Regions from separate parts of the Homo sapiens genome. Here regions 1 and 3 are each reported to be linked to region 2. Evidence: microRNA targets listed by miRTarBase, many of them from high-throughput screens and not tested one by one. Region 2 holds a microRNA gene; each other region holds the end of a gene's coding sequence.
The links. The annotated mature microRNA hsa-miR-492 reads AGGACCUGCGGGACAAGAUUCUU and lies in region 2 at 5,338-5,360, opposite strand. An mRNA with a match to its seed (bases 2 to 7 or 8) in the 3' UTR can be bound and repressed. Matches are read on the target gene's strand: a 7mer-m8 pairs with bases 2 to 8, a 7mer-A1 pairs with bases 2 to 7 and ends in A, and an 8mer does both.

Region 1 (10,912 bases), not on the chromosome of region 2:
AAATCAAACAAGTTACATGCTTTGAAAATACAATGGTGGGATAGGCACAGGGCAGACATTTCCTTTCCAAAAGGTAGAAGTAGGAAGGAAGAAAAAGATAATAAATCCTGACTAACTGTAAAACCCAACAGGGCAAATATTAAGGCTCAAGAATAATCTTCGACTTGACATTTTACCTTCTAAACACTTGGGGGGTGGGGGGTAGTCCTGGCCATGACTTTGCTGGGCAAAACCCATATAGCATTTCTCACATATTGGAGTCACATGCCTATGGCTCTCCCAGGCTGGAATTGCACACTGGTGGCTCTACCAGTCTGGGGTCTTGGGGGTGGCTCTGCTCCCACGGTTTCACTGGGCATTGCCATACTGGGGTGGGGGCTGTCTGTGGTGGTCCTGCTCCTGTGATAGTTCTCTGTCTGGGCTCTGAGGCTTTCTGGGGCATCCTTTGAAATCTAAGTGGAGGCAGGCATGCCCTCATGACTTGTGCACTCTGCACTTTGGTAGAGATAGCACTGCACAGACACCACCAAGATTTACTATATTGCCTTCCAGAGAGTGGCCCAAACTGCACATGGGCCTGCGTGAACCATACCTGGGGCAGGTGAGGAGCATTGCAGCAGAATGCAGGAAGTGGAGATTTGAGGCCACCTGGCGTCAAGGTCCTACCGGTTTCCAAGCTTCCTCTTTTGATACAGATATGTTGCCCCCAGCCTTGGCAGTCTGTGCCTATGATAGGAAGGACAGCACAAATAAACACTGAAAGGCCTTTGGTGTCATTCTTTCATTATCTTGATAAATAGCACCTGATTTCTGCCTCACCGTACTAATCTCCTTATCAAACGGTTACTTAGCCACACCCTTGGTGTTCTCTCTTGAACACAGCTTTCCACTCTATACAATATGACCAGGCTGAGAATTTTCCAAATCTTTAAGTTCTGCTTCCACATTTTATTATAAGTAGTCAAAATCCTCAACATTTTGCTTAGAGATTTCTTCTAGAACATGAACATGATTTGGCCAAGTTCTTTTGCCCCTTTGTAACAGAGATCATCTAGTCCTCAGTTGCCAATAACGTGTCCTTCATTTTTGTCTGAGACTTCATCAGAATGGCCTTTACCATCTGTATTTCTGTATTATCAACATTTTGATCACAACCACTTAGGTAATCTCTAAGAAGATGGAGGCTATTTCTACAGCTTCTTCAACCTCACCTTCTTCTGAACCCTCACCTGAGTTGCCCCTAAGGCTCCTTTCATGGCAGTGGACCTGTAAACTCTTTCCATCCTTTATTTATTATGCAGTTCCAAAGCTGCTTTCCCATTTTTAGGTTTTGTTATTAACACACCCTATCTCTCTGTGCCTATTTCTGTCTTTGTTGGTCTCTGCTGCTATAATGAAATGCCTTAGACGGGGTAATTTACGATAGAAATGTATTTCTCACAGTTCTGGAGCCTGGGAGGTCTAAGATCAAGGAACTAGCAGATATGGTCTCTGGTAAGGGCTACTCTCGGCTCCATAGATAGCATCTTGTTTCTGCATCCTCACATGGTGAAGGCGGCAAGGCACCTCCCTTCAACCTCTTTTTTATTTTTATTTTTTTATTTACTTTTTTTTTGTTTGAAACTTTAATGAGAAAAAACATATACTATCGAGCTCAAGAATATGGTGTGTTTGGTGTGCCATTGGGCCAAGGGTTGGGGATACATGTAGCAGAATTAGGAAACAGGATATACATCAACAAAAATTCACACGATCATGAGAAGGAAAACTGGCACTTGGCACAATCAACTCTCAGTTTCCTCATCATTCAGCAGCATATTGGGAACCCTGCGACTGAGGCAGAACACACGTCTAGACTCTGGGCACTGCAGGGTGCCCTCCAACACATCCACCTCCAGCAGCACATGGTACATCTTCCTCAGAAACTGTTCATCCTCCTCATATCCCTCAACTGGCCCTTTAGGCACCCCAGTCAGGTGCAAGGTATGTATCAGCTGCCTCCAGGAGCACCGGTCACTCCTAGGGTATCATACTGTGCCACTAAGTGAGGGTTGAACTCCAGAGGGCAGATGCAGACCTCAGTGGCCTGGAGGTGCAGGGGGAAGCCACAGGGCCCCACCCCCACACATGCAAGCTCAGCAGATTGTCTTCAACCTCTTTCATAAGGGCACTGATCCCAATGAGGGCTTTGCCCATATGGCTTAATCACTTCCAAAAAGGCCCCACCTCTTAATGTCATCACCTTGGGGATTAGGTTTTTAAACATATAAATTTTGGGGGCATTAATATTAAGATCATAGTAATGGGCATATGTGATGTACAAGCCTATCCCTCACATTTGTGGGACCTACAGCAAGAGCAAAAAATGAAAACCTACATACAATATTATAAATATTTAAAATGAAAATCCAGGCACAGTGACTTATGTCTCTAATCCCAGTTACTTGGGAGGCTGAGGCAGAAGGATTGCTTGAAGCCAGGAGTTTGAGACCAGACTGGGCAACATAGTAAGACCCTATCTCTAAAACTTTTTTTTCTTAACAAAAGAAAAAGGTTTAATTGGACTCACAATTCTACATGGCTGGGAGGCCTCACAATCATGATGGAAGGCAAGGGGAGCAAGTCACATCTTACATGGATGGCGGCAGGCTAAGAGAGCTTGTGCAGGGAAACTCCCCCTTATAATACGGTCAGACCTCGTGAGACTTATTTACTATCATGAGAACAGCATGGGAAAGACCTGCCTCCATAATTCAATCATCTCCCATCAGGTCCCTCCCACACACATGGGAATTATGGGAGCTACAAGATGATATTTGGTTGAGTACACAGAGCCAAACTATATCATTCTGCCCCTGGTCCCTCCCAAATCTTTTATCTTCACATTTCAAAACCAATCATGCCTTCCCAACAATCCCCCAAAGGCTCAACTCATTTCAGCATTAACCCAAAAGTCCAAGTCCAAAGTCTCATCTGAGACAAGGCAAGTCCCTTCTGCCTACAAACCTGTAAAATCAAAAGCAAGCTAGTTATTTCCTAGATACAATGGGGGTACAGGCATTGGGTAAATATAGCTATTCCAAATGGGAGAAATTGGCCAAAACAAAGGTGCTACAGGCCCCATGAAAGTCCAAAATCCAGCAGGGTAGTCAAATCTTAAAGTTCCAAAATGATCTCCTTTGACTCCATGTCTTACGTCTGGGTCACACTGATGCAAGAGGTGGGTTCCCATGGTCTTGGGCAGCACTGCCGCTATAGCTTTGCAGGGTACAGCCTCCCTCATGGCTGCTTTCACAGGCAGTTGTGGAGTGTCCTGAGTCTTTTCCAGGCCTACAGTGCAGGCTGTCAGTGGATCTACCACTCTGGGATGTGGAGGACGGTGGCCCTCTTCTCACAGCTCCACTAGCCAGTGCCCCAGTAGGGACTCTGTGTGGGGGCTTTGACCCCACATTTCCCTTCCACATTGCCCTAGCAGAGGTTCTCCATGAGGGCCCCACCTCTGCAGATTTGGGTGGGGACACAGAACCAAACCATATCATTGGGCAAGTCCTATAGGCTGAGAGAAATAGTTAAATAAAGGCCATTTAGAGAAGAGTCAGTTGACCTTAATATCAGAGGGCTCTCAGAAAGATATCTTGGTAAATACTCTTACACCTTTCCCCTTGACTCATAGCAGGACCACTCTAGGCCGGTCAACAGAAAGAATTGATCCTTTTCCCTGTGTGCTGTTTTACCAGAAACTTTACCCTGCTCAGAGCAGGGACACAGATGGGGATATTTTCCAAGCAAATCTCCAGTTTCCCACTTGACTGCTATGTGAGGAACCCCTGTTAAGAGAGGATCTGACCACTGAGCATGACTGGCAGTCTGAAGAGGAGTCTGCAGATGGACCCCATTCCTCACTAAAACCTGAGCATCCCACCCGAAGCCAGTGGCTCACTCCAGTTCTTCCCCACTCTTCCTGTGCCACTCCACACTCAGTTCAAATATTGGCCAGCCACGATGGCTCATACCTGTAATCCCAACACTTCGGGAGGCTGAAGCTGGCAGATTGCTTGAGCCCAGGAGTTTGAGACCAGCCTGGGTAACGTGGCGAAACCCCATCTAGTTCAAAGTGGCTGGGGAGGCTTCACAATTACGGCGGAAGGCAAGGAGGAGCAAGTCAAGTCATATCTTACGTGGACGGCAGTAGTCAAAACAGCCAAAATTTTTTAAAAAAATATAGCTAGTCAGATGACGTACGCTTTTAGTCAGGAATACCATCAGAGGAGGGGTACTGTGAGTTTACTAGCAGACCAAATGAGAACTGTTACTGCTGTCAACTTCTGTGACAACAAAATGAACAAAAAAGAAAGGTAAACTTTGTGGTGTCAGCACTGTAGTAAGCAGAAAATCTGTAAGGCTCCTAAGAACATCCTGGTTGCTGGCAGCCATTTCTTTAAGACTTTATATAGTGTTAAAAACTAAGAAAGCCCTAACCGAAATAATACTACCCACTTAGATACTGCAGCAGTCAAAATTTTTCAGTCCTTGTGGACTTCTTGTATTCTGGTAACCTTGTACTCACAAGCCAAAATAATGACAGTGGCCTATCTTCAAACAAGTGAAATTTCAAACTTGCTGAAATTTTATTACAGATGCCTAAATTTATTAAAGATTAAATATAAGCATTAAATCAGAAGTTCCATGGGTCTGCAGTTGTGGACTATAATAATAGAAAACCAGGCCGGGCATGGTGGCTCATGCCTGTAATCCCAGCACTTTGGGAGGCCAATGTACATGGATCACTTGAGGCCAGGAGTTCAAGATCTGCCTGGCATACATGGCAAAACCCTGTCTCTACTGAAAATACAGAATTAGCCAAGGATGGTGGCTCACGCCTGTAATCCCAGCTACTCGGGAGGCATGAGAATTGCTTGAACCTGGGAAACAAAAGTTGCAGTGAGCCAAAATTGTGCCACTACCCTCCAGCCTGGGTGACAGAGCAAGACTGTCTAAACAAACAAACAAACAAACAAACAAAACTCAGTTAATAGAGATGGTCTGTCTTCATCATTGGATCAAAAAATTGCCAATTTTTGGGCAACATTAAATCTTACCAATTTGGCAAGTAATATAAAAACTGAAAATGATGGCTGTAATGTCAACAAGGGCCAAACAGAAAACTACCAAGTGAGTGACAATAGTTGGGTCCAGAATGCATCTCCTGAAATGGCTGAAAACAAATCCAAAGGTCAAACAAGTGTTTGCTTGGAATAATATGGGCTCCCAGGGAATTCAAGAAACTGGGAAACACGGAGGAAAAACCAAACTACAAGGAGATTTATTTATAATACATCATCTAATAATGAAACAAATTTGGAAGATTACTCAATGATGCAGCCATCTATTGCCTTTTCAGAGGAAAATACGCTACTCATATTTGAGTAGAAATCTTGGAAGAACCAGATTTGGATGTTGCTCTACTTTCAGGGCCAGATGATGATAAGAATGTATTGGCTGAAGCTGGGTCTAATCAAGATGGAGGTGATGTTAGAACTTCACATGATTTTATAATAAGTATGGTTTGATGCCTGGCACTTCAAGTGACTTCAAGTATGAATTGATACCAGATACTTTGATTTCAAATATGGATTATTGCCAGAATCTTGGCCAAAACAAGAAACTTGGGAAAATGGTGAATCATTCATGTTAGGTTGTTCTTGTGTTGCTATAAAGAAATACCTGAGACTGGGTAATTTATAAAGAAAAGAGATTTAATTGGATCATGGTCCTGCAGGCTTTACAGAAGCATAATGCTTGCATCTACTTGGCTTCTGGGGAGGCCTCAGGAAGTTTACAATCATGGCAGCAGGTGAACAGCGAGGAGGCATCTCACATGGCGAGAGAGGAGGCAAGAAAGAGTGTGAGGATGGGGAGGAGGTGCCACACACTTTTAAACAGTCATATCTCTTGAGAACTCACTCACTATCATACTCTCATGAGGACAGTACCAAGCCATGAGGGTCCACCCCCATGACCCAAACAACTCCCACCAGGCCTCACCTCCAACACTAGGGATTACATTTCAGCATGAAATTTGGGCACAACAAATATCCAAACCATATCATCATCTCTAATCATGAATAAGTTAAAATGCCATCATTGTAGCTATGCAGCCAAATGCAAACAAACACTAAAAAAGCACTTGCTTATTCATACAGGAGTGAGATCATTTAGCTGTGACTTTTTACACTTGGAGAAAACATGTAAGAAAACATTTCTTGGTGCACAAGAAGGATAAAAATGCAAATGTATGGTATGTAAGATCATGTTAGCAGCCAGTGTTGGAGTAAGACATGGATCTTGACCCTATGGTTTTTGTGTAGACTGTTCCAATAAATCACAACCAGGAAGGCCAGCAAGTGTAGATGAGAGACAGGATACAGAATCCCTCATGATAAAGACTATGAGGAGAATGAAGTAGGAGAAGCTGATGAAAAGTGGGTGGATGATGGAGATCAGAATGATCCATCTCAATGAGATGAATTAGCAGATGTTTGTATGTCTCTAGATATTTAACTGACCCACTATATTCCTCAAGGATACTGCATTTGGACATAATACAAATTGGCAGTTTGGAATGTTGAACTTAAAGTCTTGCAAAATGTGGTACATGCTAGATGGTAGTTATGTTGCTATGAGGACTATATGATCAAAGCCTTATAGCAAAAAAAATTTTTTAATATTTGCAAAGGACTGTACAGCAAACAACCATGTGGTTGAATTACATGCAGTCCTCATATATTCAGTTGGTTAGCAAACTAAAGTATTTTTTATTTATGGGATGTACAGTAACTATTGGGTCTTACGGAAATATAGTACCTGTCCTTATAGAGCTCACATTCATGTGCTACTCTAACATGACTGAAGAAATTCATTATGGAAGTACAGTGATAGTTGACCCAATCACTCAGTTTATCAAACTCCCCAGGCTAGCCTGTACTAGTAGAGTTGTGTTTCTATTTTTATTTTTTACTTTTATTAATTTTATTTTTAATACAGATTTTCAGTAAGGGGCATTTTCAACCTAATTGGTTCTATTTTCTTGTATTTTCCATTTTAATTTGCTTCATAACTTAAACCAAGGCTCTTCCAGTCTTAGTTATTATGTCTCAGTTATGTGCCAATGGGCATGTTTTTAAGAACTGAAGAGGTAATTTATTGCAATGAACTAACTGACCTCCTCCATTCCTTCTTTCCTTTTTGACATGAATTTTACTACCCCACAAATGAAAAATGATGTTGCAAAGTTACTGTGGTGAAGTTGAAAAATATCACTAAAATGATTATAATTTAGTATTAATTTTCTCCTGCTGCTCTAATCTGATAAATTCTTACTATATAGTGTTTTCTGACATGGTATTTGGTTTTATATCTGTTACTTTGGTGCTATTCTTGTTTGCCTTTTCTTATTTTTGCCAGTGTACTATACCTCAGTCCTATTTAGAAGACCTGATGGAAAGAAAAGTCATGTAAATAATAAGTAAAATGATTTGTTTTATGATTTATTCACCATGTCCAGTTTGGTTAGCTTGTTATGCAGTATAAGTGAAATATCAGGTTTTTACCCTATGCTCTTTTTAATCATTAAAATTAATACAAAATGTGTGTGTGGCAGCTGGGGGAGACATTCCGCCATGAAAATTGAGAGAAGGTCCCGGTAAAGAGATTTGCTTCTTTATTTTCTAGGAATATCTAGTCTTCTTAGAGTTGACTGGTCACATCTGGAATGAGGTGCTTCCTGAGAAATCTCTGGATCTCCTTCCAAGCATGTTCCTGTGCAGCTGCGTGTGGGATCACCTCTCCTCCCCAGTGTAACCTCAAATCGTGGGTCGTTGAGGCACAGCACAGAGGAGAATAGGGAGGTTCTATCAGGTGGCCTGCCCCAGGGTAAGATAGCAGGGTCCAGTTGTTCTTCCCATGTCTCTTCAGCTGTCCTATGGCTTGTTCAGCGTGTGCTTTGCTGTTGATAGTCTTATCACCTTCTCCTACAATGAAGAGGAATTGCCCCTGGGCCTCTTCAATAGGAAACAAATATTGACTGGCCCCAACTTGAGTTGTCTCAAAAGTGCGATAGAGCTCTAGTAACCCCAAGGCATTGGTGGATATTAATTGTGCAGAATGGGGAAGGGGCTGATGGATCTGACCATGATATACCTGTGGAATGCCAAAAGGAAAGTTGGTCCCATTAATAAGTACCGTGGCTGTGACTTGCTTTAGGTAAATAGCCATAGATAGTCCAATCTGTACTCCTTGACATACAGAGACTACCCCAACGCCTGAGCCAAAGACCTGAAAAAAATAATAGAAATGAGAAATTATTCTAGCCTTCATTTAGGAAAACTCCACAATCTCAAACAACCAAAGAACTTCACTGGCTAATGAGAACAAAGCAAGTATTAATCCTACCCACATCCCTAGCTATAGAGTTCTGGAATATATAATATGTATTCAAAAGAAATACTCCAAAAATATGTCAAGCTTTACCGACTATATATTACGGATTCAGTATTGTGTTAGGTTCTGAGTTTAAAATGCCCTAAAGAAATGCAAATGTCGCAGGGAAAGTAAGAAATGGCACATGACTATTGTGAATAATGTGGGTCAGGGTATAGATGATTGGTACACTTTCCTCCCTTCAGAGGAAAGGGCACCTTGTAGGAAGAGACTGAGAAAGAAAGTGAGATCAGTAGGATAGAGTTGAACAGAGGATTCTAGATTTGCTTTGTTTTTTCCAAAAGTTTTCTCATTGTGGAGAAAAATGTCATAAAGGAGGCTTGGCTCAGCTTCCTCCCTCATTGTCAGTCATCAAATAAGCATCCTTAAATTATCTATCCTACGGCAAGCACTGGGAGTCACAGAGAGAAAAGGAACAATCTCTTGTCATTAAGGAACTCACTGCCAGATGAAGACACAGGAGGAAAAAAAAAAACACACCAGATGATTGGAGCATCATAAATTCTATGATATGAGAATGTATGTAGGCTAGACTGCCAACCCAGATTAGCAGGGAATAAAGGCAGGATCAAAGAAAGGCTCTCAGAGGAAATGGGCTACAAAACAAATGAGTCTTCGTATTAAAAAATGAAAGCCAAGCCTGGTTAACATAGTGAGACCCTATCTCTACAAAACTAAAAAATTAGTTGAATATGGCGGTGTGTGCCTGTAGGCCCAGCTACTCAGGTTGAGGTGGAAGGATCACTTGAGCCCAGGAGTTCAAGGCTTTAGTGAGCTATGATTGTGCTATTGTACCCCAGCCTGGGCAATAGAGTGAGACCCTGTCTCAAGAAATAAAAATTACAAGAAAGTCAACAAGAAGGAATGGTATTCTATGCTGAGTATAGCAGACTCTGTTAGTTGCCTACACAGGAGCCATTCTCCACAATTTCAAAGCTAATATGACCTTGATTTTGTGTGGCATAGCAATATATCCAGCCCCAAGGGATAAATTCTGATGGATCCTAATCTATTTCCCTTTCTCAGCCTCTCTTCCAAGGCCAACATATTCTACCTAAGGACTTTTTTTGCCCCCCGTGCAAACTGACACAGAATCATGAAGAGAAAGCCTATGTTTATGATCATTCTTTTCAGACTAGGATGCTGGCCTGTTGACTTAATTCCTGAAACTGCCAGAGTCATTTTGTGACCTTCAGAGTAAGGCTAGAAAATTGCAGAAATGTCAATCTAATCTCCTTGATTGAAAACTACACTGAGTTTCTAAGCCAAAGTTTGAACCACCTATCACCAAACCTGTTATGTAAGAGAATAAGATACCTTATGCTGATGTTTAAGCCACCATCAGCCACTTTTCTGAGAAATGTAGCCAAAACATTCCTAATGTATTCACCATAGGAGAAACTCATGCAAAAACTGAGAGGCAATGAAGAGCAAGGCATTTAGAGGAACCACAAGTCATTCTTCATTATTTTAATTTAGAGTATAAGGTGGGAAATAACATAATAAGTCTGAAACAGAAAACACCAACTTTATGGTGCATAGCTTTGAAAGATATATTAAGCATCTTCAGTTTTTTTCCTAACTAAGGAGGAAAATTAGGACAAATTTTAAGGATGGGCATAAGATAAGACTGAATAAGTATGCAGAAGTCAGATCATAGGAAGCTTTGTCTAACATGCTAGGAAGCCTGGCCTTTATCCTATAATAAATAGGGAGACTCTTAAGCAAGCGAGTAAAATAGTTGTGTTTACAACTCTGACTTGCATAAATGGAGGCAGAAAAGCCACAGATTAATGCACTGATAAAAGCAGAAAATTATACTGTCCTGAACTAAGGTAACAGCAGTAAAAATGAAAAGGAAACTACATGTTCATGAGTTATTTTTGAGTATTGAGTGTATTGCTCCCAGTTACCAATTTGGTTGGGAATTCTAAGGAGGAGTTAAAGAAAATTGTTGTGTCACAAAATAAAGCTCCGATTCTCCTTGAGCACTGGCTCCTGGCAAGGACAGAGTCCTAGAGAGAAGCATCACTTTTCTAAAACCTTTGTTGACTTCCTGTATTTATTTTAATTGATCTCCTATATTTTAAAGGCATTTTATAAACCAATGTTTGGGATATTTTCCCTACTACTTAGAAACACATGAATCAATATACAACTCATGCCAAGCTGATGAAAATGTGAGAAATTCTTAGGGTAAGAGGGAAAAAAAAAACTAAACAAATGGAATGAGTCATATATACTCTCTATTTCCTACCCTGTATATTTAACAGGGGTGGCTTGAATCAATTAAAAGTTCCTTTCAAGCTCTGAAATTCTGTATTTTTTTAATTTTAATTTTAATTTATTATTTTTTACTTTATTTTTATTTTTTGAGACTGAGTCTCATTCTGTCACCCAGGCTGGAGTGTGG
Region 2 (10,912 bases):
TTTTATTTAGTTGTCATGTCTCCTTAGTCTCCTCCGATGTATGATACTTTCATCTTCCCTTGTCTTATATGGCTGCTATAGTTTGGATGTTTGACCCTTGCTAATCTCATGTTGAAATCTGATTTCCAGTGTAGGAAGTGGGTGCCTAATGGGAGGTGTTTGGGTCATGGGGGTGGATCCCCAGTGAATAGCTTGGTGCTGTCCTTGTGGTAATGAGTGAGTTTTCACTCTGTTAGTTCCCATGAGAGCTGGTTGCTAAAAAGAGCCTAGCACCTGTACTCTCTTTCTCTCTCTTTTTTTGTGATAAGGTCTTGTTCTTTCACCCCGGTTGAAGTGGACTGGTGTGATCACGGCTCACTGCAGCCTCAACCTCCTGGGCTCAAGAGATCATCGCACCTCAACTCCCCGAGTAGCTGTGACTTAAGGCACGCATCACCTTGCCCAGTTAATTTTTCTATTTTTTGTAGAGATGGCGTTTCACTATGTTGTCCAGGCTGGTCTCGAACACCTGGGCTCAAGAGATTCTCCCCTTTTGGCCTCCCAAATTGTTGGGATTACAAACATGAGCCACCGTGCCCGGCCCCTCTCCTCTCTCTTGCTTCTCCTCTCACCATGTGATCTCTGCACACACCAGTTCCCTTTCACCTTCTGCCATGAGTGGGAGCAGCCTGAGGCCCTCACCAGAAGCAGATGCTGGCACCATGCTTCTTGAATAGCCTGCAGAACCATGAGCCAAGCATGCAGATGTTGCTTTATAACAACACTAAAAGGCTTGAGACGTATGACCTTGACACTTTTGAAGAGTCGTGTTCAGGCATTTTATAGAATGTTCTTCCATTTGGGTTTGTCTAGTGTCTTCTCAGGATTAGACTGAGGTTATGGACTTTGGGGACAAATACGATTCAGGTGATACGCTGTTCTCACTGCGTCCTTTGAAGGAGTACATGATGTCAAGATGGCTTGGTACTGGTGATGTCTCATGTCTGCTAGGTTTCACTACTGTAAGGTTACTGTCTTTCCCTTTCCATCATTGATTAAGTAGAGAGGAATCACCAAGTCCAGCCCATACTCAGGGCATGGGGGGATTAAGTTCCACCTCATGGAGGAGTATCAAAGAGTCTGTGGACATATTTTAAAACCACCACAGTAATTAATATTTGTATTAGTATTCAGCTAGGAGATATTTTAAGGTTGTGCAGATAATGTTTCTCCATAAAGTTTCACACATTAATTTTATCTTCATCAGTGGATCTTGTTAAAGCAGTTATTACTATGGTGTTTAATCATGATTTCTTCTTTTCTTTCTTAAAAAAAAATTTATAAACTGTAAAGTTCTGTATTAATGTCCATAATCCTGCTGTCACCGAAAGTGCAACAGCTGATCATTCCCAGGAAGACTGAAGGCCATAATTTTTTTTAGGGCAAACATTTCTGCTCCAGTGAAATACAGGTGATTTTCTATTTTCCTAATTCTTTCTATAATTATTAATTGGAATTCTTTTGTAAGGAAGATCTGTCCCTTTTGCTATATTTACTTAGTCACTTATTTATTTCAGTATAGGCTCACAGATATTTGTTTTATTCTATGATCTTATACTACTATCCCCCCTTTTTTCCCTCTAATTTGTTCCAGCTTTGGCTATTGGGAACTCCTTCAGTTTGGCTTATACGTCCATTTGACATGCCCCATCTTTCTTCTTTTTTCCTTTTCTCACCCTTTCCTTTTTAAAAAAAGCACCTCCTTTGCTTTCTGGCATTCTAAGATGTCCAGGTTCATCTTGTATTTTCCTTGCTGCAGTTCTTGAGCCAGCCATTTCTTCAAGGAACACTGGTCTCTTGGAGGTCATCTGGAGGATGGTATTTAGAAACCAAGATCCAGATACTAAGTGTGCTTGTTGCTGTAGGGACATCACAGCTTCAAGGCCGCCTGAGTGGAAAAAGCTAGGAAATATATGTGACATGTACACCCATATATAGTGTGTGTGTGTGTGTGTGTGTATATATAATGTATATACACACACATCCCTATATTTCTGTATCTGTGTGTGTGTATAAAACAATGCCGGCCAGGCATGGTGGCTCATGCCTGTAATCCCAGCACTTTGGGAGGCCGAGGCGGGCGGATCACGAGGTCAGGAGTTCGAGACCAGCCTGGTCAATATGGTGAAACCCCATTTCTACTAAAAATACAAAAAAATTAGCCAGACATGGTGGCGCACACCTGTAGTCCCAGCTATTCAGGAGGTTGAGGTAGGAGAATCGCTTGAACCCGGGAGGAGGAGGTTGCAGTGAGCCGAGATTGCGCCACTGACTCCAGCCTGGGAGACAGAGTGAGACTCTGTCTCAGAAAAATACAAAAAACAAACGAACAAAAATCAATGCCATGAGTCATACTGATATTGCGACATCACTTTTACTCAGTAACTTTTTGGAGAACATGATTTTAAATTTTATTTTTTTTTAATGAGAATAAACTTATACAGTTGACCTATTAGGATGGCATTTGGCCACAAGCAAAAGAAGAGTTATCCAACAGTACTGTAAACAAGCAGGGGTCCACATTCCTCACAGTCATCCTTGGAATAAGTGGAGGCTGGCCTGGGCACAGAGACCAGGACAGTGTTAGTGCTCAGGGCTGAGATCCTCTTGGCCTTCCTGGCTCTTTCCCCATGGCGGCAGATGGCTGCTATAGCAGCACTAAAGGCAGTGGAAGGGTCAAAAGGCTTCTTTTGTGTGATATGGTTTGGATATTTGTCCCCGCCCAAATCTCATGTTGAAATCTAATCCCCAGTGTTGGAGGTGGGGCCTGGTGGGAGGTGTTTGGGTCATGGGGCAGATCCCTCATGTCTTGGTGCTGTCCTTGATATAGTGAGTGATAGTGAGTGAGTTCTCAGGAGATCTGGTTGTTTAAGTTTGTGGCACCTCTGCCCCAACTCACTCTTGCTCCTTCATTCGCCATGCCATGTGACATGCCTGTTCCCATTTTGCCTTCTGCCATGAGTAAAAGCTCCCTGAGGCCTCCCTGGAAGCTGTGCTCAGGATGCTGGTGCCATGCATGTACAGCCTGCAGAACAGTGAGCCAGTTAAAACTCTTCTCTTTATAAATTACCCAGTGTCAGGTATTCCTTTATAGCAGTGCACGAATGGCCTAATACGCTTTGCATAAACCTATGTCTTTTTTTTTTTTTTTTTTTTTGAGATGGAGTTTTGCTCTTGTCGCCCAGGCTAGAGTGCAGTAGCATGATCTCGGCTCACTGAAACCTCTGCCTCCCAGGTTCAAGCGATTCTTCTGCCTCAGCCTCCCGAGTAGCTGGGATTACAAGCATGTGCCACCATGCCCGGCTAATTTTTGTATTTTTAGTAGAGACGGGGTTTCACCACGTTGGCCAGTCTGGTCTTGAACTCCTGACCTCAGGTGATCCGCCTGCCTCAGCCTCCCAAAGTGCTGGGATTACAGGTGTGAACCACCGCACCTGGCCAAACCTATGTCTTTTTATTGGGAAAGGAAAGTTTCCCTGCTGACCTCCCTGTTTAGTGAGAACCGAGTTATTCTTGCCTTTGACTTGTCACTGGCCAAAGAGAAGGAGAAAACCAAAGAAAAGGTTGAATCCCATCATCATTCACTTTCTGAGGCTGAGAGAGGGACCTGTCCTCCCTCAGATTGGGCTCAAAGGGGACAGAAAGGGCTGCTGGGTGTGCACATATAGGGTGGCCTAGGATGTAGACTTCTTAGGAACTTTTAAAGATAGGAGATACTTAATGCTTACCTTCCAGAAGGAGAAATGGAGACACAGAAAGGTTAATGTACTGGCCAAAAGTCACAGAGTATGTGCTGGAGCCAGGGTTGGAAGCCAAGGAGTGTGGTTCCAGAGTCTGTAGACACACGCTAGCCACAGGCACGTTGGATACAGTACACTCTGGGATCTGGACCTGCAGGAATGCAGGCCCGTGTTGAAAAGGTGCCAACCCCTCTGGCTCATTGTGGGTCCTGGCAATCCACATTGCAGGGTCACCTTTTTTTTTTTTTTTTTTGAGACGGAGTCTCGCTCTGTCGCCCAGGCTGGAGTGCAGTGGCGGGATCTCGGCTCACTGCAAGCTCCGCCTCCTGGGTTCATGCCATTCTCCTGCCTCAGCCTCCCAAGTAGCTGGGACTACAGGCGCCCGCCACTACGCCCGGCTAATTTTTTGTATTTTTAGTAGAGACGGGGTTTCACCGTTTTAGCCGGGATGGTCTCGATCTCCTGACCTCGTGATCCGCCCGCCTCGGCCTCCCAAAGTGCTGGGATTACAAGCGTGAGCCACCGCGCCTGGCCCAGGGTCACCTTTTTGACTGAGATGTTTTCTGTTATAGTTGTCCCTTAGGCAATGTGAAGAGGCACCCCTGTCCATTACACCGTAATTTGACTTGGCCTTCTGGATCATTTTATGTGTTGACATTTGCCCAAGAGGAGCCTGGGGATTAGACTGGAACTTTTCTTTGCTCTTGTTTTTTTTTTTTTTTCTTCCCTTGAGCCATAAAATTTTGCTGGCAGGTCAGGGGAAGAACCAGGGGTAAGGGTCTCTTCCTTCCCATCCTCCTACCCAGGAGACGTGCTTTGAGGAGAGCAGAGGCCCCAGAGCCTGCAGCCTCAGAGGACCTTGGAGGTGGACAGGTTGTTGTAATGATCTTCCTGGCCCTCAAGCAGGCTGCGATAGGTGGCGATCTCCTGCTCCAGGAGCCGCTGGTACTCCTGATTCTGCCACTCACCATCAGCTCGCACATCGCCCAGCTGGGCTTCAATACTGCTGATCAGTGCCTGGATCTGCACCAGCTGGGCTCCAAAGCATGCCTCTGTTTCTGCCAGTGTGCCTTCTAAGGGAGCTTTCACGCTGAGCTGCGAGTGCAGCTCAATCTCAAGACCCTGGAGGGTGCACTGCAGGTCAGTGACCTCAGACCTGCTTATCTGGAGCTGCTCTATGTGGCCAGTGACCTCCTGGTTCAGTTCCTCAGTCCAGCTGGTGAACCAGGCTTCAGCATCCTTCCAGTTCTGCTTGGCCATGATCTCATATTGGCTTTGCCTGTCACTCAGGATCTTGGCAGGTCCGAGCTGAATCCACCCTCACATGGACCTGGTCTCCCACTTGGCCCCTCAGGGCATTGATTTCCTCCTCATGCTTCTTCTTCAGGTAGGCCAGCTCTTCCTTCAGGCCTTTGATCTGTGCCTCCAGATCAGTCCTGGCCAGGGTCACCTCATCCAGCACCCAAACACTCAAACCAAACTTGGTTCAGAAGTCATCTGCAGCCAGTTGAGCATTGTTGATCTGCAGGACAATCCTGGCGTTCTCAATGGTGGCACCAAGAATCTTGTCCCGCAGGTCCTCGATGGTCCTGTAGTAGTGGCTGTAGTTGTGGGAGGGCCTGTGCCCCTGCTTCTGGTACTAGTCACGGAGCTTCACCTCCAGCTTGCTGTTGGCTGCCTCCAGGGCGTGCACCTTGTCCAGGTAGGAGGCCAGGCAGTTGTTGAGGTTATGCATGGTGAGCTTCTCGTTGCCCGCAAGCAATCCGTTGGACCCAGACAGGATGCCGCTGTAGCCCCCCGAAGGAGGACAAGGACACGCCGCGGCTGCTGGAGCCCCTGTGCCTGCTGGGGGACTGGAACTTTTCTAGTGAGCAGTAGAGACTGCAGTCCAGCTCGTAGGCAGCCACAGTGCTGAAGGAAGGAGCAGCCATTAGGATAGTTATGTGCTTGTCCTGGCTCTGTCACTACAAAGATTTGTGACCTCAGGCAAGGTCCCGAATCAGATGGTCTTAAGACAGTGTATCATTTCATCTGACTTTGATGGGCACAGACATACAGTCCCCCTTTTTCTGTCTCATTTCCCTCATCTGTGAAATAGGGGAACTGGAGGGATAATCTGGATAAACCTTAACATGCTTGTCAGAGGAAAGTGGGGCCCTGAACAAGAGCTGGGAGGCCCCCAGTACTTCTCTCTGCTATCTGTTCTGTGTCTTCTGTCCACTCCTTCATATGAGCTACAAGGAATCTCTGCAAAAGAGGTGAGGTGGGAACTCAAACTGAGAGGAGTGGAGACTGAGGACAAGCCAGGAAGATACGTGCCGAGAAAGATGCCAGGTGAACTCGATCTTAGACCCCACGGCGGCGTTCTCTCTGGGCCCTGGCTAGTGTCAGTCAGTGATCTCAGAGTCAGCAGATCTATTTCTCGCATCTGGATGCCAAAAAGCAGGAAATCCCTGGTCTTGGCTGGGATCAGGGGATAATCTCAGATGTGAAGGATAGGGCAGCAAGCCCTCAGATGGGCTTCCAGGCAAGTCTTGTCCCCAGTGGGAGCCCATAATTCCTTTTTTCAGCCACTTGGATCTTTTGCTTTTTAGTTTTGGTGACTGATCTTCTGTTCCAGCCAGGGAAAAAAAATTATCTGCGCAGAGGCTTGCTCCAGGATTCTCTTTCTTCTTCTTCTTCTTTTAACTAGGGACTGCTGATGTCGTCACTTCTGTTTTATTTTCTTTTGGAATTTATTCCTATTTTACAGAGTCCTTCCCTGGCCTGATGCTCTCAGGCATAAGCTTCGTGGTTAAGCTTCCCCCTTCCCCCTAAGTCTTGTTCTCTTCCCAGACACAGGCACTTCCCCCTTGGCTGTCTGAGTAAACACAGCCCCTGCCTCTTGGGATTCTACCTAATAGCCCTTTTGCCATTTGAGGCCTGGCCTGGTATCAAGTTTCTTCTTTTAAAAAACAGCCTTGGGCTGGGCGCTGCGGCTCTGCCTGTGAGCACTTCGGGAGACGGAGGCAGGCAGATGGCTCTGGGTCCAGGGGTTTAAGGCCCGCCTGGGCAACATGATGAAACCTCATCTCTTCAAAAATACAAAAATTAGCTGGGTGTGGTGGCATGCACTTGTGGTTCCAGCTATGGGTGGTGGGGGCTCTGGAGCAGGAGGATTGCTTCTGAGCCTGGGAGGTGGAGATTGCGGTGAGCTGTGATCGCACAACTGCATTCCAGCCTGGGTAACAGTGAAACCCTGTCTCAAAAAAATAAAAATAAAAATAAAAAAATAAAAACAGCCTTTAAAACCCACATTTATTTTGATTTCTAAAGCAATATATGTCTGTTGTGGAAAATTTGGGAAATAAAAGTAATAAAGAAGACAATAAAGATCAACCTTAATCCCAGTGCCCAGAGAATTAATGTTTCATGCATTTTATTTCACTTTCTTCTGGAAGTATGTATATACATGTGGGTATGAATATTTAACATAGTTGGAGCCATACTGTACCTAATGGTTTATAATACGTTTTGCTTTTATGTTCTCACTAACCCCTGTGGATATGACCCTAGACATGTCTTTGAATTTTTTGAAGTTAAATTATGCTCTACTTATTTAGTGACCATACACTCACTTTCTACCTTTTTTTCCTATCATCCCTTCTTTACTCTCATTCCCCTGTCTGTTTTAGGATGATGATGAGGAGGAGGAGGATGATCAGTCATATAGAAACTCTCGGTATTGATACATTCATGCTTGGAGTGCTCTGTAATGTTGATGCTGTTATTATCCTCTTATTAATGGAAGAGAAAACAGAAGTTAAGGAAATTGCCCAGGTTACGTGCCCTAGTAAGGGACAGAACTGGATTTGAACTTTGACACTAGCTGCAGAGTCTGGACTAGCCTCCCTTGATATTCTTCTTGTGAGCGCTTCTTTTCTGGGTCGAAGATAGCCTGATAGCATTTTCCAGATTTTGTGGATAAAGCTGGGTGTTAGTCTTGGCCTGGCCACTTCCATCCTCTGTGGCCTTTAGTAAGTTATTTCACCTCTCTAGATCCCTGTGGGCCTTTTTGGGTCTCAGGGTCTATGACTTTCTAGTGGAAAGAAAACAACAGAGACAACTTTCAAGGACAGGCCCAGAATGATAGGAATATCATTGTCTACTTGATTTCAGGGACACTTACATTTGGCTCTAAAAGACATTTCTGTGAGGAAGTTGGTTTTCTCCACACTTTACTAAGGCAGGAGCTAGGTGGTGCCCAGGAGAAGTCCCCACAGGGGCTGTGAGGTTTTCTTGGATGCTAAGTTAGAGCGGTCCTCATGAAGGGTAAGCCCCATGACATATTTCCCTTGAGTGTGCTGAGGTCACAGGGCTTCTGTGGCTCACCAGCAAGTGTGGGGAGTGAAGAGCATGTGTCCCTCCCTGGCACAGGCACCCGGCCCCCTGCCGTGTTGTGGTATCTCTTCCCAGATGATCTTTGAGGTGTGTGGCTGGAAGAATGCTCCAGTCAGCTAAAGTGGGGTTCTTTAGTCGCAGTGTGTGCTGGTGGGCGAGTGAGGTGGGCTGGGCAAGCCAGAGGTGACTGCTCTGCTTTTCCTGACATCAGTGATGGGGTTGTCTTGCTTGGTGCACAGGTATTTTTCCAGGGTTCTGTCCTTCCACTCACTGACCAGAAAAAGAAAAAGAGAACAAGAAGACGCTTGTCTTACAAAATAGAAAGTTTACCCCATGCAGTTTCCCTTCCCTTTTCATATAGATGTTACAAAGCAAAAACACACACCCACAATGAGGGGTTTTTGAACTTGGCTGGGTTTCAGCTGTCACCCAGGAAGCAGTCAGCACTGTACGTGGCCCGTTGCTTTACTCTGCAGGTGTTGGTGATTCTCGGGTGCAAGGCCTGGCAATTGTGTTCCTGTGCCAGGTCCTCTGCACATGGCTTTCTTTGTTTAGTGTTATTTCCCCTGTTTGCCAGGCTTCTCTGAGGAGATGCTGACATTTTTTCTTTGTCCAGTTCTCCTATCCTAGAAACAAACAAAAACTGCACCTTTTAAAAATGTTTTTTTCCTATGGTTGAATTGGAAAATATCTTGCTTTAGCCAGGGAATAGCACAGCTTTTGTTCTGTTAGTGAAATGATCCAGGGATTTTATTTCAAAGTATAAGGTCCCTAAGATAAGGAATGAGGGTTATAAGGGAACATGGTTATGTTTGGGCAGTCAATTAAATTGAATATAGCAGTGATGAAGCACTAAATGTACATTAGGAACATACACATATCAGTCAAGTTTTCAAGTCTCCCAAGGAAACTACAGTCATAGTGATGGTAATGATGATGTGTTGATAATAAAAAAATAACATCGGCATTTGTTGAGTATTTACCATGTGCTGTTAATAGATAGTGTGCTAGTTTAAAACAACTCTGTAGTATGTATTAATTTTTTGTATCAGAACAAGAAACTGAAACTCAGTCTAAGTAACATGCTAAAGTCAGCTAGTAAGTAGGAGTGCTGGGTTTTACACACAGATTGAGTCCACAGTTCCAACCCTTAACCTCCAGGCAAACTGCCTGCAAAATCATATTTTAACAGATGTGGGGCCGGGCATGGTGGCTCATGCCTGTAATTGCAGCACTTTGGGCCAAGGTGAGTGGATCGTTTCAGGTCAGGAGTTTGAGACCAGCCTGGCCAACATGATGAAACCCTGTCTCTACTAAAAATGCAAAAATTAGCTGGGCATGGTGGCAGGCGCCTGTAATCCCAACTACTTCGGAGGCTGAGGCAGGAGAATTGCTTGAACCCAGGAGTCGGAGGTTGCAGTGAGCTGAGATTGTGCCACTGCATTCCAGCCTGGATGACAGAGCAACACTCTGTCTCAGAAATTAATAATAATTAAAAAAAGAGATCTGGGTATTTTAGCTTTAATTAAAAAAATAATAAAGAGAGATAGAGTCTTGCTATGTTTCCCAGGCTGATCTCAAACTCCTGGGCTCAAGCGTTTTTCCTGCCTTGGCCTCCAGAGTAGCTGGGACTACAGGTGTGCACCATCGTGCCTGGCTTATAGCTTTAAATTTTGAGATACCTGAAGAAAGTGCTTTTGATAAATAAAATTGAAGAAGAAGGAAATGTATTCTTTCTCTCCATTTTGTTTCTATCTTTGGATTGCCTGTGACTCATCATGAATATGACTGGAAGATCTGCCCTCTGAACTGAGCCCATAACTTTACTGAGGTATAATTTACATATCTAAAGTCCATCCATTGTAAATACATTGATTTTTAGTGAATTTGTAGAGTTGTGCAATCATCTCCGTAATCCATGTTTATAGAACATGCCCATTACAGCACAAGGTGGCCTTGTGCCCACTTGCAGTTAGTCTCTTCTCCCACCCCCAGTCCTGGGCAACCACTAATCCACTTTCTATCTTCATACATTTGCTTTTGCTAGAAATTTCATATAAGTGGAATGATTTAATATAGGGTTTTGTGACGGGCTTTTTCTCCCTTAGCATGTTTTTGACCCTTTTCACTGTTGTAATGTACATTGGTAGTTCCTTTTTGTTGCTGAGTATCTCATTATATGGATATACAACATCTTGTTAACTCATTCACCAGTTGATGTTCGTTTGAGTTGTTTCTACATTTTGGCTATTATGAATAATGCTGCTATAATCATTTGTATGCAAGTTTTTGTGTAGACAAATGTTTTTATTTCTCTTGGGTAGACACCTAGAATTGCAATTCCTGGGACATATGGTAGATGTATATTTAACCTTTTGAAAAGCTGTTACAGTGCCTTCCACGGTGACTGTACCATTTAACCTTCCCATCTCTGGGGTATGAGGGGGTTCCAGTTGCTCCACATCCCATTCTACACTTGATATTGTCTGTCGTTTTGACTATAGCCATTCTGGTGGGTGTGTAGTAGTATCTCATTGTGGTTTTAATTTGCATTTCTGTAATGACTAATGATATTGAGCATTTTTGCGTGTGCTTATTAGCTGTTTATATATATATTTTATTATACTTTAAGTTCTAGGGTACATGTGGACAATGTGCAGGTTTGTTACATATGTATACAGGTGCCATGTTGGTGTGCTGCACCCATTAACTCATCATTTACATTAGGTCTATCTCTTAATGCTATCCCTCCC
Region 3 (6,201 bases), not on the chromosome of region 2:
CATGTGCGTTTGCACGTGCGCTTGTGTGTGCGTGTGCACGTGTGGTGAGTGCATGTATGTCAGTGCATGTGTGTGCGTGTGTGTATGAGTGCATGCTCATGAGTGCATGTGCACCTGTGTGGTCGTGAGTGCACGTATGTGCTTGTGCATGTGTGCCTGTGCAGATGTGTATATGAGTGCGTGTGTGCGTGTATGAGTGCGTGCGTGTACACATGAGTGCATGCTCGAGTGGGTGTGTGTGCATGTGTTTGTGCTCATGAGTGCATTCATGTGTACATGTGTATGTATGCTCGTGAGTGCATGTGTCTGCGTGTGTGTATATGAATGCATGCTCGTGAGTGCGTGCATGTGCATGGGTGTGTTTGCATGCTGGGTGGTGGTCACAGACATTCACTGGGGATGGAGGGCTCAGGGCTTGGGGAGGCGCTGACATCAGGATGGCCTGTGAGGAGTAGGGCTAGTCTGGGGGAGTCTTGGGCACTGGAGAAGTCGGGGTGGTCTAGACACTTGCAATGGGAGAGGCCCTGGGACCATGGGAACGTGTGGCATCCAGCAGGAAGGGCTGTGATGGAGAGGGTGCGCCGCTTACATGGCCCCTGAGGCTTGGTCCTGGTGTCCCTGGCGCAGGCTCTGGGTTGCCGGACCACGCACTCCAACCAGGAGGTGCTGCAGAGCTGCCTGCTCGTCATCTTTGCCACCAAGCCTCATGTGCTGCCAGCTGTCCTGGCAGAGGTGGCTCCTGTGGTCACCACTGAACACATCTTGGTGTCCGTGGCTGCTGGGGTGTCTCTGAGCACCCTGGAGGAGGTGAGTGTCCCTTGGGCTAAGGCCTTGGTCCCAGTATAGGCTCTGCTGGCCAGGCTTGGGCGGCAGGCAGCCCCCCAGAGAGCCTGAGAGGTGGCCGTGTGGCCCACCTGGATCAAGTGGCTGGATTTAGGGTTCCCTCCTGGTGCTGTACCTGGGAGGCAGACGCTGGAGCCCACCGCGAGCTGACGTGGACCTTTCCTGAGGCCCCTGCTGGGGCCTGCCCAGCAGGGCCCAGTCCTACAGACTCCCTGATTCTGACCTCTCTCTGGCCAGCTGCTGCCCCCAAACACACGGGTGCTGCGGGTCTTGCCCAACCTGCCCTGTGTGGTCCAGGAAGGGGCCATAGTGATGGCGCGGGGCCGCCACGTGGGGAGCAGCGAGACCAAGCTCCTGCAGCATCTGCTGGAGGCCTGTGGGCGGTGTGAGGAGGTGCCTGAAGCCTACGTCGACATCCACACTGGCCTCAGTGGCAGTGGCGTGGCCTTCGTGAGTATTGCCTCGTCCATCCCCGGCCCCACCCTCGGCAAAGAGGGGGCCCACCCCAGTCCCTCTGACAGCCTCTGCCCTCAGAGTCCAACCTTGAGGCCTGCGTGGTTGCTCCCCAGGCCCACTGGGAGCTCTGCTTGTCCCCGGGACTTCACTGCCTTGGGGATCTTTGAGGCCAGCCCCTTTGCAGACCGTTGGGCTCAGGCCTTGGTTCTGGCCACCCACGGCTACTGCTCTGGGCATTGTTCCTGAAGGTCCTGAGCCCCCAGGCTTTGACACCTATCCCCCCCAACCACCATGCCGCGGCTACAGGTGTGTGCATTCTCCGAGGCCCTGGCTGAAGGAGCCGTCAAGATGGGCATGCCCAGCAGCCTGGCCCACCGCATCGCTGCCCAGACCCTGCTGGTGAGTGAGGGTGGCCCCTGGGGAACATCGGGAAGGCCCAGGCCTGTACCTCTTCCAGTGCGCAGGGAAACAGCAGGCTCGAGAAGCTGGGGCCAAGGTTGGGGGATGCAACGAGGGCAGGCCGCACAGTGGGGACCGCACCACCTCCCCCCGTCACCAGGCCCTAACGCTCTCCTCAGGGGACGGCCAAGATGCTGCTGCACGAGGGCCAACACCCAGCCCAGCTGCGCTCAGACGTGTGCACCCCGGGTGGCACCACCATCTATGGACTCCACGCCCTGGAGCAGGGCGGGCTGCGAGCAGCCACCATGAGCGCCGTGGAGGCTGCCACCTGCCGGGCCAAGGAGCTCAGCAGAAAGTAGGCTGGGCTCTGGCCATCCTTTCCTGCCTCTGTGCCCCTGCCTCTCCCTGTGTCCCTTCCCCTGAGGACTGCGGCTCCCTCCCTCCTGCATGAGGGTCTCCTACTGCTCCTTCTCCCCTTGCACAGGGAAATGCAGGGGGCAGGACTTGGGAGGTTCCAGCAGGCGGGGGAGCCCCGACCAGTGGGGACACTCCTCCCTCCCCAGTGAGCAGAAGGCACCGTGGTGGTGGCTCTGCCCCTTGCTGCAGTGAGCCCACCTTGCTGCAACATTGGTTCTGAGGGGCCCAAGAGATGGCGTCTTGGTCATTTGCCCGCATGGTTGGGCAGTTGGTTGAGGCCATGAACAGAACTTACGGTAACAGGCACGGCTGGCCCAATGCCTGGTCTGGAGCTGGAGCTTGCCTTTGGCTTTCCAGGTGGCTCCGTGCAGCTACAGCCAGGCCGGCTGCCTCATCTCAGCTCTAGGGGGCACGAGCCATATGGGGTCTGCACAAGAGACCCTCTCCCCTGCAGTAAAGCCAGGGGCCCTGGCCTGATGGGGCCCCCATGGGGAGCTGGAGCCTGCCCTGCAGCCTGGAGAAGAGGGTGGCTGTGGTGGGCGTGCTCATCCCCTGCTAAGGAGCAGGAGCTGCTGGGCCAGGTCTGCGGCAGTGCTGGGGTGGCACCAGGTGGGCAGTGGTAGGTGGGGTGGCTTGAGGTCTGGGAGGGTGGCCCTGGCCAGCCAGGACACATGCAGACCCCTGGCTTTAGTCTGGATACAGGCTCCCTCTTTCCTCCCAATCCTAAGCTCCTGACAAGTGGCCAGGTGGCTCTGGGCCCTCCTGCCCCGTGCCTAGGTCAGGGGTCCTGGAATACCCCGTAGCTCTGGCACCACCACACTGGCCTCTGATGGCAAGACTTGGCCCCTCCACCTGTCCCTAACGGACGGCAGGTCAGGAAAGCCAGGACTCAGGGGAGAAGCAAACCCCCAGGATTGAAGGCTAGGGTTCTAGGGCCTTTGGGTGGGGAGGGCCCGGGCCGGACAGCCTCAGCTCCGTCCCCTGCCCCACAAGATTCACCTGGGCCTCCAGTCCCACGCTGGCCCCAACTGCTGCAGCTCTCGGCTTCCGCCCAACAGCCTCTGGAGGTGAGGCGGGAGCATGCCCTCAGCGAGGCTGGGCGGCGGGTCCTGCTGTGCCATCTCCCTGTGCGCCTGAGCAGATCAATCCACCAGTGCAAAACAGGGCTAACGGCACCTGCAGGACAGCAGCACGCTCCATCCCTCATGCTCAGCTGCCTCTGCGGCCACGGACTTCTGCCCTTCATCTGCTCTCTCTTACTCTCCTGAGCCTAGCCCGTCCGTAAGCTCCCTCCCCTGCCTGGTTCCCAGGGCAGGCTGACTCAGTTGACTGCTTGGTCCAAGCCTGGCCCTGGCACTTGTCAGGGTCAGCCTAAGGAGATGGGAATAAAGAGGCCAGAGAGCACCAAGTGAGCTCATGTTTCACCAGAGGTGGATAAAACCAAGTTCTGGGCTGGGCCCAGTGGCTCACATCTGTAATTCCAGCACTTTGGGAGGCCGAGGCGGGCAGATCACAAAGTCAGGAGTTTGAGACCAACCTGACCAACATGGAGAAACCCCATCTCTACTAAAAATACAAAATTAGCTGGATGTGGTGGTGCGTGCCTGTAATCCCAGCTACTTGGGAGGCTGAGGCAGGAGAATTGCTTGAATCCAGGAGGCGGAGATTGCAGAGAGCCAAGATCATGCCACTGCACTCCAGCCTGGGTGACAGCAAGACTCTGTCTTGGAAAAAAAAAAAAAGAAGGTCCAATGCCTGCCCCATAAGTTGAGGCCTGGAACCTTGGTCAAGCACAGGTGTCAGCCGAAGGGGGTGCTGGCACTGTGGACAGCAGAGGTCTCCCCATGCCTGCTACAGGCCTCTACATCACCTGGGGGCTTTGTAGGGCATGGAATTGCAGTTTCCCCTGCACGCTGTCACCCCAGGGGACTGTATGCCAAGCCTGGGCAGGCCTGGGAGCCTGGGGTCTGGTGCAGGCGGCCCCCTGAAGGAAGGTGGACAGCCCTTCTGACGGCCACCTGCATTCACACCAAGCCCATCTGCAAGGAGAAATCATTGACTTTGCACCAACACCTGTCTCCCCCTGGGACCTCTGACAAGCCCTGGGCACTAGGTGAGCTCAGCTCGGGAGGTGGAGATCCCAAGCCAGCCACTCCTGGCCCAGCTGGTGAGGGCCTGTGACAAAGACACGGGCTCAGTTCTCGGCACGGCAGGGAGCGTTGTGGTGAGCCAGGCCTCCCCTGTGCCTTCTACTTCCAGGTGAAAACTGTTCTTCAAGACAGAAAACGATGGATATGATTACGGTATCTTTGATCAATGTTCCACTTTTATGCCCTATGCCCCAACTGTTAATCTAGGGGGTATTCCTGATCCAAGCGTTGGATCAAGAGTTTAAAAATAAGACTTCAAAACAGGGATGCTCATGAAGTGGACATGTCCAGCCTTTATTAGATAAAGCCACTGGGCCCATCTGACCAGGCGAGCTCAGCTGTAAACAAGCTCGCCAGTTAGAGGAAGGGCCCTCAACAGAGCATGACCCCACAAGCCTAGGGACTCCGACATGCTGTTGGGGCTGCTCCCCATGGGTGTCTCAACTAGGTAGGTAAGGGGTTGGGGTCTCTGCAGGACCCCCCCGTCTGGGGGTGCTCCCCTTCCTTTCCTACCACAGTGTGATGTTTCATCCGCAGCCCAGTGGACATCGAGGGGGTCCCCCAAGCCTGCAGGTCCTTGGGCCAAGGCAGTGGCCTCGTCCCCCTGAAAACGCGGGTCGGGTGGTTTCAACAAAACCTGCACTCATCTTTCCCTCCTCAGCGCCTTCCCTTCTCCAGCCCCCACAAGCCCAGGAACTCTGACAATGATGCTGACACGGGGGTCACTAACTGGAAGAGCAGTGAACAGGAGCTGGGGGCTCTTGGGGGCCATCTGAGCTGAGGACAGCTGGCTGTACCTCCGAGGCCACAGGCACCCCCACCCACCCCTGCGCCTGCAGGGAATGTGCAGAATCTGCCAGAGCGGAGGCCAGAGCCCGCAGGCAGCCACGGCTGTTAGAGGAAGCAGATGCAGCCTCACCCCAGCCCACGTCTGTCACCACAGCCAGGGCCTGGCAGGCGATGGCACCCGCGCAGCTTTGGGAAAGAACACTTGGCCTCCCAAAGGGTTCTGCCACCCCTGGGGGCCGCTACAGCCACCAACCCTGGGGTCTTTCCATCACTTCAGACACTGAGCAGAACCCAGAGAGGGTTAGTGAGCTGCAGGTAGGGCTGGGACGGGGCCCCAGGTTCCAGCCCAGGGTCTCAGGGATCCATGGCTGGCACTGCCCACAGGGCCAGGCATGGGCAGAGCAGCCTTCTCAGCAGCGGGGCCCAGCGGCCAAGCCTCTGTCACACAGCACCCTGTGCCAGCATGCCCCGTGCTAGGGAGAAGATGCTTTTTAAGCCCTCTTTAGGGGGTATTTCCCGTCTAGTAAGTGCCAGCAGGCAGACCCACTCTTGACAGGCTCCTAATGTCCCCACCAGCGTGCACCTGCACTTTTTTTTTTTTTTTTTTGAGACAGAGTCTCGCTCTGTCGCGCAGACTGGAGCGCGGTGTTGTGATCTTGGCTCACTGCAATCTCTGCCTTCTGGCTTCAAGCATTTCTCGTGCCTCAGCCTCCTGAGTAGCTAGGGTTACAGGCACCTGCCACCACGCCCAGCTAATTTTTGTATTTTTAGTAGAGACGGGGTTTTCACCATGTTGGCCAGGCTGGTCTCGAACTCCCAATCTCAGGTGATCCACCCGCCTCAGCCTCCCAAAGTGCTGGGATGACAGGTGTGAGCCAACGTGCCTGGCCTCTTTTATCTTATAGCAAAAATTAGTGCTGCCTTGTTTATAGAAAGTGGCCATTGAGGGACTGGGGGACAGGCCACAGCCACCCCGATGAGAGGAGCGGGCCTGCCCTCACCGACACCAGCCTCCTGGGACCCGGGCCAACAAAAGGGCTGAGATGGGAAGAAAGGTTGGAAATGAAAGCCTCGCCAAAGACGCAGCGGCAATGAGTAGTTGGGCTGAAGGGCAGCGCCACGGGCCGCCCAGACTACAGACAAG

Region 1: the mRNA of BAAT is a reported target of hsa-miR-492. The part of its 3' UTR that is shown has no 7-base or 8-base seed match.
Region 3: miRTarBase lists PYCR3 as a target of hsa-miR-492. Seed matches in the 3' UTR shown: 7mer-A1 at 3,863-3,869.

What each region holds. Positions count from the first base shown.
Region 1 is chr9:101,354,682-101,365,593 of GRCh38, forward strand. BAAT (bile acid-CoA:amino acid N-acyltransferase) reads right to left here. Exons shown (of 4, transcript NM_001701.4): 4 at 5,736-8,334. The coding sequence ends at 7,747. It also overlaps the pseudogene TRMT112P4 and the pseudogene LOC100421197. Among named protein-coding and RNA genes, the nearest start is that of BAAT, 25 kb to the right of the region's middle. RefSeq lists an enhancer at 1-140.
Region 2 is chr12:94,828,875-94,839,786 of GRCh38, reverse strand. It overlaps MIR492 (microRNA 492), which reads right to left and starts at 5,389; the gene lies at 5,274-5,389. It also overlaps the pseudogene KRT19P2. RefSeq lists enhancers at 4,987-5,486, 5,487-5,988, 8,159-8,368, 8,379-8,588, 8,739-8,788.
Region 3 is chr8:143,601,559-143,607,759 of GRCh38, reverse strand. It overlaps PYCR3 (pyrroline-5-carboxylate reductase 3), which reads left to right. Exons shown (of 6, transcript NM_023078.6): 3 at 628-807; 4 at 1,081-1,293; 5 at 1,606-1,698; 6 at 1,878-4,550. The coding sequence ends at 2,060. It overlaps TIGD5 (tigger transposable element derived 5), which reads right to left. Exons shown (of 1, transcript NM_032862.5): 1 at 4,536-6,201. Among named protein-coding and RNA genes, the nearest start is that of PYCR3, 4.9 kb to the left of the region's middle.